Linked DNA regions of Homo sapiens: region 2 is linked to region 1. A link means that fine-mapping ties the variant in region 1 to the expression of a gene that starts in the linked region. Tissue or cell type: pancreas. Region 1 holds a variant in brackets; the other region holds the start of a gene. All regions are shown on one strand. Distances are between the middles of the regions.

The links. PIP is the estimated chance that this variant, and not a neighbour inherited with it, causes the effect.
Region 2: it holds the start of RANBP17, and the variant in region 1 is fine-mapped to the expression of RANBP17 in pancreas (GTEx, PIP above 0.99).

The regions. Positions count from the first base shown.
Region 1 is chr5:171,059,030-171,066,488 of GRCh38, reverse strand. The region is part of intron 14 of RANBP17 (RAN binding protein 17); the gene reads right to left. Among named protein-coding and RNA genes, the nearest start is that of RANBP17, 200 kb to the right of the region's middle. The variant T/C (reference allele first, on the strand shown) is at 4,375.
Region 2 is chr5:170,858,531-170,865,989 of GRCh38, reverse strand. RANBP17 (RAN binding protein 17) reads right to left here and starts at 3,972. Exons shown (of 28, transcript NM_022897.5): 1 at 3,939-3,972. The coding sequence starts at 3,956.

The sequences.
Region 1 (7,459 bases):
TTGCAACAACATGAGTGAACTTGGAAGACATTATGTTAAGTGAAATAAGCTATCCACAGAAAGGTAAATATTGCATAATCTAACTTATATGTGGAATCAAAAAAACCTGAACTCCTCATAAAAGTAGAGAGCAGAATAGTGGTTACCAGGGACTGGAGGAAGGTGAAGTTGGGGACAGATTGGTCAAAGGATACAAAATTCCAGTGGGATAGGAGAAATAAGTTCAAGAAGACTATTGTACAATATGGTAACTATGATTAATAACCATGTATTGCATGCTTGGAACAAATTTAGTTTTATTTCAAACTGAAAATAAAAAATAAACACAGCCGGGTGCAGTTGCTCATGACTGTAATCCCAGCACCTTGGGAGGCCGAGGTGGGCAGATCACTTGAGGTCAGGAGTCTGAGACCAGACTGATCAACATGGTGAAATCCTGTCTCTACTAAAAATACAAAAAATTAGCTGGGCATGGTGGTGGGCGTCTGTAATCTCAGCTACTTAGGAGGCTGGGGCAGGAAAATCACTTGAACCCGGGAGGCAGAGGCTGCAGTGCACCGAGACCATACCACTGCACTTCAATCTGGGCGACAGAGTGAGACTCCGTCTCAAAAAATAATAAAAATAAACACAAGAATAGCTAGGAAATTAATGAATATAAAGATCTGTGAAAGGTGGGAAAGGAGGCAGGGTAGAACTACTCCAAGGTATAAAAACATGCTACAAACCTCTTTCATTAAACAGTATGGTACTGGCACAAGAATAAGCTATCAAATCAATGGAATAAAATATAATTTCTAGAATTAGATCCAATTACATATAAACATCTAGTATATGATAAAACTGGTATCTCAAATCATTGGGTCAAAGATGCTCTGGTTAATACACAGTGTAGGGCGGGGAGGGATCCCAAAGCCCTGGGCCATGGACTGGTACCAGTCCATAGCCTGTTAGGAACTGGGAGTCACAAAGCAGGAGATGAGCGGAGGGCAAGCCAGCATTATCACCTGACAGCTCCGTCTCCTCTCAGGTCAGCAGCAGCATTAGATTATCACAGGAGCAGGAAACCTACTGTAAACTGTGCATGGGAGGGATCTAGGTTGTGTGCTCCTTATGAGAATCTAAGTGATGCCTGATGGTCTGAGGTGGAACAGTTTCATGCCAAAACCGTCCCCTTCACCCCACCCCCCCATTCTGTGGAAAATCTGTCTTCCATGAACCTGGTCCCTAGTGCCAAAAAGGTTGAGGATGGTTGGTGTAGGGAATACCGGATAGCCATTTGAAAAAAGGTAAAAGTAGATTCATTCCTTCCACTACACCCAAGAATAAACTCCAAATGGATCAGAGATATAAATATAAAAAGTAAATCTATATATGCACCAAAAGAAATAATCAGTGAATTCCTCTAAAACCCATCTGTAAGGAAAGGGTTCCTAACTATGACTAAAATCCTAGATGCAATTAAAAACAAAATAAGATGATACGTTGGAAAATGTGCATAGCCAAAGAAAACTCATTAACAAAATCAAAGGTAACTGACAAAATTGGGAAAAACATTCACAGCATATATCGCAGATAAATAGTTACATTCTTAATAAATCAAGGATTTTTTTTTTTTAAATTGAGGAAAATCAACCTATAGAAATCCTATAGAAAAATGGGCAGGGAGGCTGGGCATGGTCACTCATGTCTGTAATCCCAGTACTTTGGGAGGCAGAAGCAGGCAGATCATGTGAGCTCAAGAGTTCGACACCAGCCTACGCAACATGGAGAAACCCCATGTCTATGAAAAAAAAATACAAAAATTAGCTGGGCATGGTGGCATGTGCCTGGGCACAGTGGCATGTGTCTGTAGTCCCAGCTCCTTGGAAGGCTAAAGTGGGAGGATCACTTGAGCCTGGAAGGAGAAGGTTGCAGTGAGCCAAGATCATGCCACTGTACTACAGCCTGGGCAACAGAGTGAAACCCTGTCTGAAAACAAACAAAAAAACAAACAAATGGGCAAAGATTTGAATAAACAACTCAAAGGAGATATAAAAATGCTTGTTAATTATGTAAAAACATATGTAATTTCATTCATATAAAAGAGAAATGCAAATTAAAATTACAATAAAAGTCAATTTTTTCACCCATCAAATTAGCAACAAATTCAAAAGCTTAAAAATACATTCTAGGACTGGCAGCCAAGATGGCCGAATAGGAACAGCTCCCATCTACAGCTCCCAGCGTGAGTGACGCAGAAGACGGGTGATTTCTGCATTTCCATCTGAGGTACTGGGTTCATCTCACTAAGGAGTGCCAGACAGTGGGCGCAGGACAGTGGGTGCAGCGCACCGTGTGTGAGCCGAAGCAGGGCGAGGCATTGCCTCACTCCAGAAGTGCAAGGGGTCAGGGAGTTCCCTTTCCTAGTCAAAGAAAGGGGTGACAAACAGCACCTGGAAAATCGGGTCACTCCCACACTAATACTGCGCTTTTCCGATGGGCTTAACAAACAGTGCACCAGGAGATTATATCCCGCACCTGGCTTGGAGGGTCCTACGCCCACGGAGTCTCGCTGACTGCTAGCACAGCAGTCTGAGATCAAACTGCAAGGCAGCAGCGAGGCTGGGGGAGGGGCGCCCGCCATTGCCCAGGCTCGCTAGGTAAACAAAGCAGCCGGGAAGCTCGAACTGGGTGGAGCCCACCACAGCTCAAGGAAGCCTGCCTGCCTCTGTAGGCTCCACCTCTGGGGGCAGGGCACAGACAAACAAAAAGACAGCAGTAACCTCTGCAGACTTAAATGTCCCTGTCTGAGAGCTTTGAAGAGAGCAGTGGTTCTCCCAGCATGCAGTTTGAGATCTGAGAACGGGCAGACTGCCTCCTCAAGTCGGTCCCTGACCCCTGACCCCCGAGCAGCCTAACTGGGAGGCACCCCCTAGTAGGGGCAGACTGACACCTCACACGGCTGGGTACTCCTCTGAGACAAAAATTCCAGAGGAACGATCAGACAGCAGCATTCGCGGTTCACGAAAATCTGCTGTTCTGCAGCCACTGCTGCTGATACCCAGGCAAGCAGGGTCCAGAGTGGACCTCTTGCAAACTCCAACAGACCTGCAGCTGAGGGTCCTGTCTGTTAGAAGGAAAGCTAACAAACAGAAAGGACATCCACACCAAAAACCCATCTGTACATTACCATCATCAAAGACCAAAAGTAGATAAAACCACAAAGATGGGGAAAAAACAGAGCAGAAAAACTGGAAACTCTAAAAAGCAGAGCGCCTCTCCTCCTCCAAAGGAAAGCAGTTCCTCACCAGCAACAGAACAAAGCTGGACAGAGAATGAGTTTGACGAGTTGAGAGAAGAAGGCTTCAGACGATCAAACTACTCCGAGCTATAAGAGGAAATTCAAACCAAAGGCAAAGAAGTTAAAAACTTTGAAAAAAATTTAGATGAATGTATAACTAGAATAACCAATACAGAGAAGTGCTTAAAGGAGCTGATGGAGCTGAAAGCCAAGGCTCGAGAACTACGTGAAGAATGCAGAAGCCTCAGGAGCCGATGCGATCAACTGGAAGAAAGGGTATCAGTGATGGAAGATGAAATGAATGAAATGAAGTGAGAAGGGAAGTTTAGAGAAAAAAGAATAAAAAGAAACGAACAAAGCCTCCAAGAAATATGGGACTATGTGAAAAGACCAAATCTACGTCTGATTGGTGTACCTGAAAGTGACGGGGAGAATGGAAACAAGTTGGAAAACACTCTGCAGGATATTATCCAGGAGAACTTCCCCAATCTAGAAAGGCAGGCCAACATTCAGATTCAGGAAATACAGAGAACGCTACAAAGATACCCCTCGAGAAGAGCAACTCCAAGACACATAATTGTCAGATTCACCAAAGTTGAAATGAAGGAAAAAATTTTAAGGGCAGCCAGAGAGAAAGGTTGGGTTACCCTCAAAGGGAAGCCCATCAGACTAACAGCGGATCTCTCGGCAGAAACTCTACAAGCCAGAAGAGAGTGGGGGCCAATATTCAACCATATTAAAGAAACAAATTTTCAACCCAGAATTTCATATCCAGCCAAACTAAGCTTCATAAGTGAAGGAGAAATAAAATACTTTACAGACAAGCAAATGCTGAGAGATTTTGTCACCACTAGGCCTGCCCTACAAGAGCTCCTGAAGGAAGCACTAAACATGGAAAGGAACAACCGGTACCAGCCGCCGCAAAATTATGCCAAATTGTAAAGACCATCAAGGCTAGGAAGAAACTCCATCAACTAACGAGCAAAATCACCAGCTAACATCATAATGACAGGATCAAATTCACACATAACAATATTAACTTTAAATGTAAATGGACTAAATGCTCCAATTAAAAGACACAGACTGGCAAA[T/C]TGGATAAAGAGTCAAGACCCATCAGTGTGCTGTATTCAGGAAACCCATCTCACATGCAGAGACACACATAGGCTCAAAATAAAAGGATGGAGGAAGATCTACCAAGCAAATGGAAAACAAAAAAAGGCAGGGGTTGCAATCCTAGTCTCTGATAAAACAGACGTTAAACCAACAAAGATCAAAAGAGACAAAGAAGGCCATTACATAATGGTAAAGGGATCAATTCAAAAAGAAGAGCTATCCTAAATATATATGCACCCAATACAGGAGCACCCAGATTCATAAAGCAAGTCCTGAGTGACCTACAAAGAGACTTAGACTCCCACACATTAATAATGGGAGATTTTAACACCCCACTGTCAACATTAGACAGATCAATGAGAGAGAAAGTTAACAAGGAAACCCAGGATTTGAACTGAGCTCTGCACCAAGCGGACCTAATAGACACCTACAGAACTCTCCACCCCAAATCAACAGAATATACATTTTTTTTCAGCACCACACCACACCTATTCCAAAATTCACCACATAGTTGGAAGTAAAGCTCTCCTCAGCAAATGTAAAAGATCAGAAATTATAACAAACTGTCTCTCAGACCACAGTGCAATCAAACTAGAACTCAGGATTAAGAAACTCACTCAAAACCGCTCAACTACATGGAAACTGAACAACCTGCTCCTGAATGACTACTGGGTACATAACGAAATGAAGGCAGAAATAAAGATGTTCTTTGAAACCAATGAGAACAAAGACACAACATACCAGAATCTCTGGGACACATTCAAAGCAGTGTGTAGAGGGAAATTTATAGTACTAAATGCCCACAAGAGAAAGCAGGAAAGATCCAAAATTGACACCCTAACATCACAATTAAAAGAACTAGAAAAGCAAGAGCAAACACATTCAAAAGCTAGCAGAAGGCAAGAAATAACTAAAATCAGAGCAGAACTGAAGGAAACAGAGACACAAAAAACCCTTCCAAAAATCAATGAATCCAGGAGCTGGTTTTTTGAAAGGATCAACAAAATTGATAGACCGCTAGCAAGACTAATGAAGAAAAAAAGAGAGAAGAATCAAATAGACACAATAAAAAATGATAAAGGGGATATCACCACCGATCCCACAGAAATACAAACTACCATCAGAGAATACTAAACACCTCTACGCAAATAAACTAGAAAATCTAGAAGAAATGGATAAATTCCTCGACACATACACCCTCCCAAGACTAAACCAGGAAGAAGCTGAATCTCTGAATAGACTAATAACAGGCTCTGAAATTGTGGCAATAATCAATAGCTTACCAACCAAAAAGAGTCCAGGACCAGATGGATTCACAGCCGAATTCTACCAGAGGTACAAGGAGGAACTGGTACCATTCCTCCTGAAACTATTCCAATCAATAGAAAAAGAGGGAATCCTCCCTAACTCATTTTATGAGGCCAGCATCATCCTGATACCAAAGCCTGGCAGAGACACAACCAAAAAAGAGAATTTTAGACCAATATCCTTGATGAACATTGATACAAAAATCCTCAATAAAATACTGACAAACCGAATCCAGCACCACATCAAAAAGCTTATCCACCATGATCAAGTGGGCTTCATCCCTGGGATGCAAGGCTGGTTCAATATATGCAAATCAATAAATGTAATCCAGCATATAAACAGAACCAAAGACAAAAACCACATGATTATCTCAATAGATGCAAAAAAGGCCTTTGACAAAATTCAACACCTTCATGCTAAAAACTCTCAATAAATTAGGTATTGATGGGACGTATCTCAAAATAATAAGAGCTATCTATGACAAACCCACAGCCAATATCATACTGAATGGGCAAAAACTGGGAGCATTCCCTTTGAAAACTGGCACAAGACAGGGATGCCCTCTCTCACCACTCCTATTCAACATAGTGTTGGAAGTTCTGGCCAGGGCAATTAGGCAGGAGAAGGAAATAAAGGGTATTCAATTAGGAAAAGAGGAAGTCAAATTGTCCCTGTTTGCAGATGACATGATTGTATATCTAGAAAACCCCATTGTCTCAGCCCAAAATCTCCTTAAGCTGATAAGCAACTTCAGCAAAGTCTCAGGATACAAAATCAATGTACAAAAATCACAAGCATTCTTATACACCAATAACAGACAAACAGAGAGCCAAATCATGAGTGAACTCCCATTCACAATTGCTTCAAAGAGAATAAAATACCTAGGAATCCAACTTACAAGGGACGTGAAGGACCTCTTCAAGGAGAACTACAAACCACTGCTCAATGAAATAAAAGAGGATACAAACAAATGGAAGAACATTCCATGCTCATGGGTAGGAAGAATCAATATCGTGAAAATGGCCATACTGCCCAAGGTAATTTACAGATTCAATGCCATCCCCATCAAGCTACCAATGACTTTCTTCACAGAATTGGAAAAAACTACTTTAAAGTTCATATGGAACCAAAAAAGAGCCCGCATTGCCAAGTCAATCCTAAGCCAAAAGAACAAAGCTGGAGGCATCACGCTACCTGACTTCAAACTACACTACAAGGCTACAGTAACCAAAACAGCATGGTACTGGTACCAAAACAGAGATATAGATCAATGGAACAGAACAGAGCCCTCAGAAATAACGCTGCATATCTACAACTATCTGATCTTTGACAAACCTGAGAAAAACAAGCAATGGGGAAAGGATTTCCTGTTTAATAAATGGTGCTGGGAAAACTGGCTAGCCATATGTAGAAAGCTGAAACTGGATCCCTTCCTTATACCTTAAACAAAAATTAATTCAAGATGGATTCAAGACTTAAATGTTAGACCTAAAACCATAAAAACCCTAGAAGAAAACCTAGGCATTACCATTCAGGACATAGGCATGGGCAAGGACTTCATGTCTAAAACACCAAAAGCAATGGCAACAAAAGCAAAAATTGACAAATGGGATCTAATTAAACTAAAGAGCTTCTGCACAGTGAAAGAAACTACCATCAGAGTGAACAGGCAACCTACAAAATGGGAGAAAATTTTCGCAACCTACTCATCTGACAAAGGGCTAATATCCAGAATCTACAATGAACTCAAACAAA
Region 2 (7,459 bases), 200 kb after region 1:
CTCACCCAGTTTGCAATAATTAGTGCATATTGCCATATATTGATGCAGGGAGCACAACATGTCCTGAGGCCAACAGAAGCTTAGTTTTGAAACCTGCACAGATGTTGCCCTGTGTCACCTTCCTTTGACCAATTTTAATCTGTATCCTGTCCCTGTAACAAACTGCAACTGAGTATGACAACTTTCGGTGAATTCTGTGAGTCAACTACTGAACCTGAGGGTGGTTTTGGGAAACCCCCAAACTTGCACTTGGTCTGAGAAGAAAGGGCAGTCTTGTGGACTCTGCCCTCTAATCTCAGTATGGCTAATTCCAGGGACATACCTAATTTGTCATAAAGTCCTCCCAATTATTCTTCTATAAAGACTCAACTCAACACCTCCCCCTGATATTCACAGACAGTAGATCAAGCAATATTTTCTAACTGTGGCTGCCAGGGCCAGGGATTTCTCAAGCTGCTCTGGGAATGCGAGTAGAGAGTAGTGGGGTCTTAGAAATGTCATGGTTCGATTTGAAAACCACTGGTCCAACAGAGTGGACACAACCTTTGGAATCTGCCACTCACTTATTAAGTGACCTCGGGCAAATAATTTAACCTTTCTAAGCCTTGCTGTTAAAACTGCAAACAGGGCCGGGCGCGGTGGCTCACTCCTGTAATCCTAGCACTTTGGGAGGCCGAAGTGGGCGGATCACCTGAGGTCAGGAATTCGAGGTCAGCCTGGCCAACATGGAGAAACCCTGTCTCTACTAAAAATACAAAAATTAGCAGGGCATGGTGGCTTGCAACTGTAATCCCAGCTACCCAGGAGGCTGAGGCAAGAGAATCACTGGAACCCGGGAGGCAGAGGCTGCAGTTAGCCGAGATTCCACCACTGCACTCCAGCCTGGGCGAGCAAGATTCTGTCTCAAAAAACAAACGACAACAACAACAACAACAAACCTGCAAACAGCAATATCTACCTTCCAAACTAATTGTAGAATGAAGATAGAAAAGATGGGGAAAGCCTAATCCAGTGCCTGCCATACAGAAGATCCACAATAAATCATAAATAATCTCTCCAGTTACTGGTGAATATAAAAGACCATACGGATCTTCCATAGTTTCTCCCATTCAAGTCCACACTGCCAGAATGGTCATTCCCACATACCTTTTCTCATGTTATAATTGCATTTAAAAATAATAGTTCTCAATCACATCTAGATCAAATCAGGTAGCTTGACTGGAGATTAAGAAGCATGGCTATATTTCCTGCTTCTTAAACAGTCCTGAGCAAAAAAGTTGGATCAACTGAGTCCCTTAAATTTTTCCTAACATTCTCTCGATTCTTACCAAGGTACCTCTGTTCTACCTAAAGTGCCTACCTCTTACTTCTTCTCAATTCTTTTTCCTCACTCTGCCCCCTTATCTGGATTGCCTGTCAGGGAATCCAGACCCATTAATTCCTTTGGGACAGGGTATCGTAATTCACAGCTTCCTAACCAGAATGCAACTGCTTTGAATGATTCACAGGTATGCCTGAGATATTGATCCCTCTGCCCTCCAAGCATTAGGAGCAGAGCTTGAGACATTGGGGAAAGTGCACACTGATGGCCTTTGGCAATGAGCGGTTTATGTTAATGAGACACACAATTAACATTTTTTATGTATGTCATGATGTGAAAAAGATGTTGACCACTACCCTAACCTCACCCTACACAAATCTGCTTCTTTACTCATCATCTTGATGGTATAATTTTTGCCTAGCTGCCCTTTTGGGTAGGTGACAGTAAGACAGAGGTAATGGGGAACACGGAACTTATGAGTTATGAGGCCTACTCTAACTCTGTAACGTTGGGCAAGTCACAACTGTTTTAAGACTCAGTGTCTTCAGAATGAAACGTATATATGCACACTTTTTAAGTTAGTGGCAGGGCTCACCTCTATAATGAGGATATGAAAACTCAAAATGCTAGGTACTGGTTATCACTATTAACAAATGTTCCTTGAGTTAACTGATTAACAATATGATCCTATATGCTAAAAAGAATTCAAACGGAGAAATTTCAGTTTTTTTCTAGTCAACAAAACTGTCTGATCTTTTATTTGTCCAACTCCGCTTTTAAGCTGTCTACAGGAATGTACTGTGAAGTACTTATGTTGGAATGTACTGTGAAGTACATTCCTGCAAAACCAATATGGGTAGTTTTGACATCAGCAGCTAACTTTTCCAACACTGTGCCTAAATATGAAGAAGTCTTCCAGGGCTTGGTGATTTAACTGTACATCACCTTTCCATGTATGAAAAAATTCCAAAGTTCCACCATACCTTTTAATTTACTCTCAAGATTTACTCGGGCTCTGTGAACATCTGATTACCTATTTACAATCCATAAATCCTCCTTGTAAGATTCTTCCTGTGAAAATTTCCCAGAGGGCATATTTACTAAAGTGGTAATACATTATTTTGACCTGAGGACCCTTAGAAATGGCATGAAGTCAAAAGGTAATGTGTCGGGCTTACTACATAACATTCTAGAACTGTCGATTATCAGACAGTAACTGGTTTTAAAAAAAAGACCCTTTAGAAGAATCAATAAATCAGCCAAGTTATAAATCAGTGTGATCACAGGGGGTTCAAAAGAGTCTACAAGGGGAATGAGATTCTTAGATACACTGTCACCATATTATGAAATTCCCTTCCCTCCCTGGGGTCATCTCCTGCCACCCACTGCCTCCCCTGATCCCATCCCTTTGTCCCAACCAGACTCAACTTTCTGCAGTACACCATGTTCTTCCACAATTCTTTGCCTTGGCTCACACGTCCTTCTACCTCCATATCCTTCCCTTCCTCTTCACCTGGCAAACAACTACGACTCTTTCAAGGACCAGTAGACTGCAAGTTCCCTGAGAGTAGAAACCATAGTTTTGTTCAGAGCTGTTGTATCTTCAGCGCCTAGCATAGTAGGCGCTCAATAATTAATAAATGGAAGAATGGAGGCTCAAAGAATCTTAAAGCATCTCTCAGCTAAGAGCATAGCAGCTCTGCTTCACTCCTTCTCAACATACACATTTGGCTGGCTACCCCCTTTTCTGTGCTATGATACTGTGACTATTTCTACCATACATTTTTCACTTGTACTGTAATTCTCTGTTAACTGTATGAGGGCGAGGATAGTAAGATGTCATCCTTTATCCCCAGAACTTTCCACAATGCTTGAGACACAGTGGGGAGATAATAAATGTTTGCTGAATAACTGAACGGGGATGTCAGAGCAGCCCGAGGATATACAAGCACGCGTCCCATCTTCGTAGCCTCTGCGATCCTCGCGTCCGCGCCCGCGCCCGCGCCCGGCCCGGGTTTCCTCCTCCGAAGAGGCGGCCGCGTAGCCCTCCCTCGCAACTCCCCCCAGACGCAGCCCCTGTCTCCTCTGGCCAATTAAAGTCCAACCGCTGCCGCCGCTCCTTCGGTGGATCCCAAGCCCCCGCTCCGGCTGGGGCTCAACTGTGTGGAGGGAGGCTGACGATAGAGCCGCGCCGGCGACGCGGCGGGAAGGCGGGAAGGCTGCTCCACCGCTCGGCAGCCGCGCGAGGCGCGCCAAAGCCGGCCCAGCTGGGACTCCCACCTGCCCTGGCAACACTAAAGCCGCGGTCAGCGAGCGTGCTGCCGGCGTCCGCACCTTCCCCGGGACGAGCCCTGGGCCTGTCCCCCGCCCCCTCCACCCGCCGCCTCCAACCCAGGCTCGGCCGCCCCTTTCTCGGGCTCCGGCCCGGGCCTGGGGTGTGCAGCCCAGACCAGTGTCCCGGTCCCCGGCTAGGGGCAGAGGCAGGGGCTGGGACTCCGGGGACACCGGCCCACGGCCCTGCGGCCTCCGCCGCTGTCCTCGGCCCTCGGTCTCCAGACGCGTCCCGCCGGGTTCCCAGCGTGGCGGAGCGCGGGCCCGCGGCGCAGAGCACACTGACCTGGAAGTGCAGCGCCATCTTCCCAGGAGGCGGCGCCGGCCAGCCGGCCGGTCGGCACCCAGCGCCCGAGGGGAGGGAGCAGAGGCGGGCGCCGCGGAAGCCCCAGACGCCCGCGGGGTCCCTGCGCCGCTCGTCCTTCGCAGCCTCAGCCAGGCTTCGCGTCCGCATTCGAAGCGCTGGAGGGGCGGGGCTGGGAGGGACGGGGCGGGGCTGGGAGGGACGGGGCGGGGCGACGGAGGCGGTGCACGGGGCGGGGCCGATAGGGGCGTGTCCTCCGGGAATCTCAACCGTCCCTTGCGCTCAAGTTTCAACCGGCGTGTGTTGGTGGGTCATGACCTCCAACCTCTGCCCTTTGACACAACTACCACGACCCACCCGTCAGCCGTGGACCCTGACTCATAAGTCTTCCAAAGGCTCTCTTGACCCCTGACCCTCAAAATACAACTATCGCCCATGGCTCCCGACACCTGCATCTCCACAGATTTTCTTGTCTCCTAACAGCCAGGAACCACAGACACACACAGCCATAACCTTTGACTCCCACATGCCAGCTGTTGCCCTTGACCCCTGACTCCCAGGGCCCAAATTCCATTGTTGCTTAACAATGTTTTTAACTTGATTTTGGTTAAAATTAAACCGCCCATGTCTACATGCTGTTAAGTTGTAAAATTCAAGCTTTACCTCATTCTTTGTCTGCATTTTGTTTAATATGAACTTATATTTTACAACAAATGATTCCACTGCAATGAGAATTTATTGGAGCAGAATTGGGTCAAAGTTGCTGCTTTCTGATGTTCTCCGTTTTTTCTTCAAGTTCAGCATTTCCATTTGGGAGCACTGTGCTGTAGTATTTAAGAGGGAAACTCCCTTAAGCACTTCTTGTATTCAGGTCTGCTAACAACAAAGTCTCTCAGCTTTTGTTAACATAAAATCATCTTAATTCACCTTCATTTTTTAAAGGATAGTTTTGCTGGGTATAGAATTTCACATTGGCTTTTTTTTTAATCTTTCAGCATTTTAAAAATGTCTTCTCATTGTCTTCTGCTTGTCATTGTTTCTATTGAGAAATCAGCCATCAGTCTAATTGTTGCTCCTGTCTTTTGGCCCCCTCCTCAGGTACTTGAACATTTTTCTCTTTTTTTATTTTTTCTTTTTGTCTTCAGCACTTTGTGCTTGATGTCGCTAAGTGTGTGTGTGTGTGTGTGTTGTATTTATCCTGCTTGGGATTCATAAAGCTCTTTAAGTGTGAATGTAATCTTTTTTATCAAGTTTTGAAAAATCTTGGTCACTAGTTCTTTAAATATTGCATCTGTCCCCTTCTCTCTCTCTACCTCTCCATTCTGGAACTCCAGTTACATGTATGTTATAAGTTTTTGCTATATTCCTTATTTCTATTCTGTATTTTTTATTTGCCTGCTGTCCATTCCATAGAAACTCTGTTCTGCTGTGTCTGAGCTGCTATACATCCCCTCTATTGAATTCTTAGTTTTAGTTATAATATTTTCAGTTCTAGAATTTTCATTTAGAAAGTTGAAATTTTCATGGTTCCTCCTCCTCTCCCATTTTAAAAATAGATTCCAAGGCTTTGATGAAATTCTTTGTCTTTATTTTCTTAAACATTTTAACTGTATTATTTAAAGCCCTTATCTGTTAACTCCAATTTCTGAATCATCTGAGTCTTCCTGGGTTTTTGGTGCTTGGCCCTTGGCCCTTTTTTTTCTTTCTTTTTTTTTTTTTTTTTTTTTTTTTTTTTTTTACATATCTCATGATTTCTTGTTGAATTCAAACCATGTAGAAGAAAATTTGTAGAGGCTCTGGATGATAACAGGTTTCTCCAAGGAGGGCTAAGTTTTCTTGTGGTAGGCAGACAAGAGTACTAGTGGATCATTGAGTCTTTTTAATTCTGGTTAACTTCAGTTATGACCTTACTCCTAGGCCATGGTCCTTACTAGGTCTTACAACTAAAAGCCTAGAATGTGGCTGGGCATGATGGCTCATGACTATAATCCCAGCACGTTGGAAAGCCAGAGAGGGTGGATCGCTTGAATCCAGGAGTTTGAGACCAGCCTGGGCAACATGGTGAAAGCCCATCTCTACAAGAAATACAAAAAATTAGCTTGGTGTAGTAGCATGTGCCTGTAGTTCCAGCTACTCGGGAGGCTGAGGTGGGAAGACCCCTTGGGCCCAGAAGCTATAGGCTGCAGTGGGCCGTGATTGCACCACTGCACTCCAGGCCAGGCAACAGAGCAAGAATCTGTCTCAAAAAAACAAAAGCCTGGAATGTTTACCAAGATCCTTCCACCTTGTGGGGCTTGAACTCTAGTCTCTGTCTCTTCAGCCCTGTGTAGCTGCTGAAATCTTTGTTGAGCTCTTTAGGTGCTGTTGTTCTGCTGGATTTCTTAGAGTCTCTTCATGTGCATGTATATCTTAGGAACGGACACAAATTTGGGGACTCACATCTCTATAGTTTCTTTCTTTCTAGAATTTTGTCCTTCAAATCTCAGTTGCTCTTGTTCCGAAACTCCAGCCTTTGCTCCTAGCCTATTGAGACTGCTGCTTTCTATTTAGCTGTTATTCCTTGCTGCCACTTGGAAAATGCCTTGGGGTGATGACAGGGAGGAGCAGATGGGGAATCTAAGGTAAATTGGAATCTTACCCCTTGTGCTTTCCTTCTTTCAAGATTTGTGGCCACTTAAGTTCTGCCTTTTCTATTGCCTTTAGTTGTTAAAGATACTTATCTGTCGTGTGTGTGTGGGTGTGTGCATGCATGATTGCTGATAATTCATATTTACTCATAGTTTTATATATATTTAATATATGTGATAGAATTGTCATACACACACGTGTCCTATCTTTATAATAGTTTTCAGTGGGAGGTCTAATCCAACATAAGATACTTTATTATTATAAGCCTGTTTGCATCTTCCATGCTTCACCCTTGGTTTTCATAGCTCATCCACTGTCCATAAATCTGCATTTCCACAACTGAACTCCTTTAAACCTTAAAATCGTTAATACCCTCCCCCTGTGTCCCATTTTCACTCCTGTGTCCCAAAGTTCCTGATTCCCATAGTCGTAACTTCCATTTCCATGTCTCAATACTTTTGATATCCAATCTCAACTGTGATTCCCACAACCCAACATATCTGATGCCCACATCCCAAACACGCATCCTGATTTCTGACCTCTGTAAGATGTCTGCTGCACAATACCCCGTTATTTTAACTGCCTGCTGCTTTTGCCTAACTTCTAAAACCCAACCACCTTTTAAAGCTATTGTTTTAAAATGGCATTTTTATCACCTCAAATTTTAGGTCCTTGAGGGAGAAACAATTATTTGAGTTTTGAATCATTTAATTTTTTTCCCACTCCAGAATATTGTCACCAGAAATGTAGGGCTGTGAAAACAACAGAGGATGCCAAGTACTCTGTGGATTCACCAGGCAATTCTGGAAACAAGAAGACAACTTTTTTTCCTTTTTTTTTTTTTTTTTTTTTTTTTGAGACGGAGTCTCGCTCTG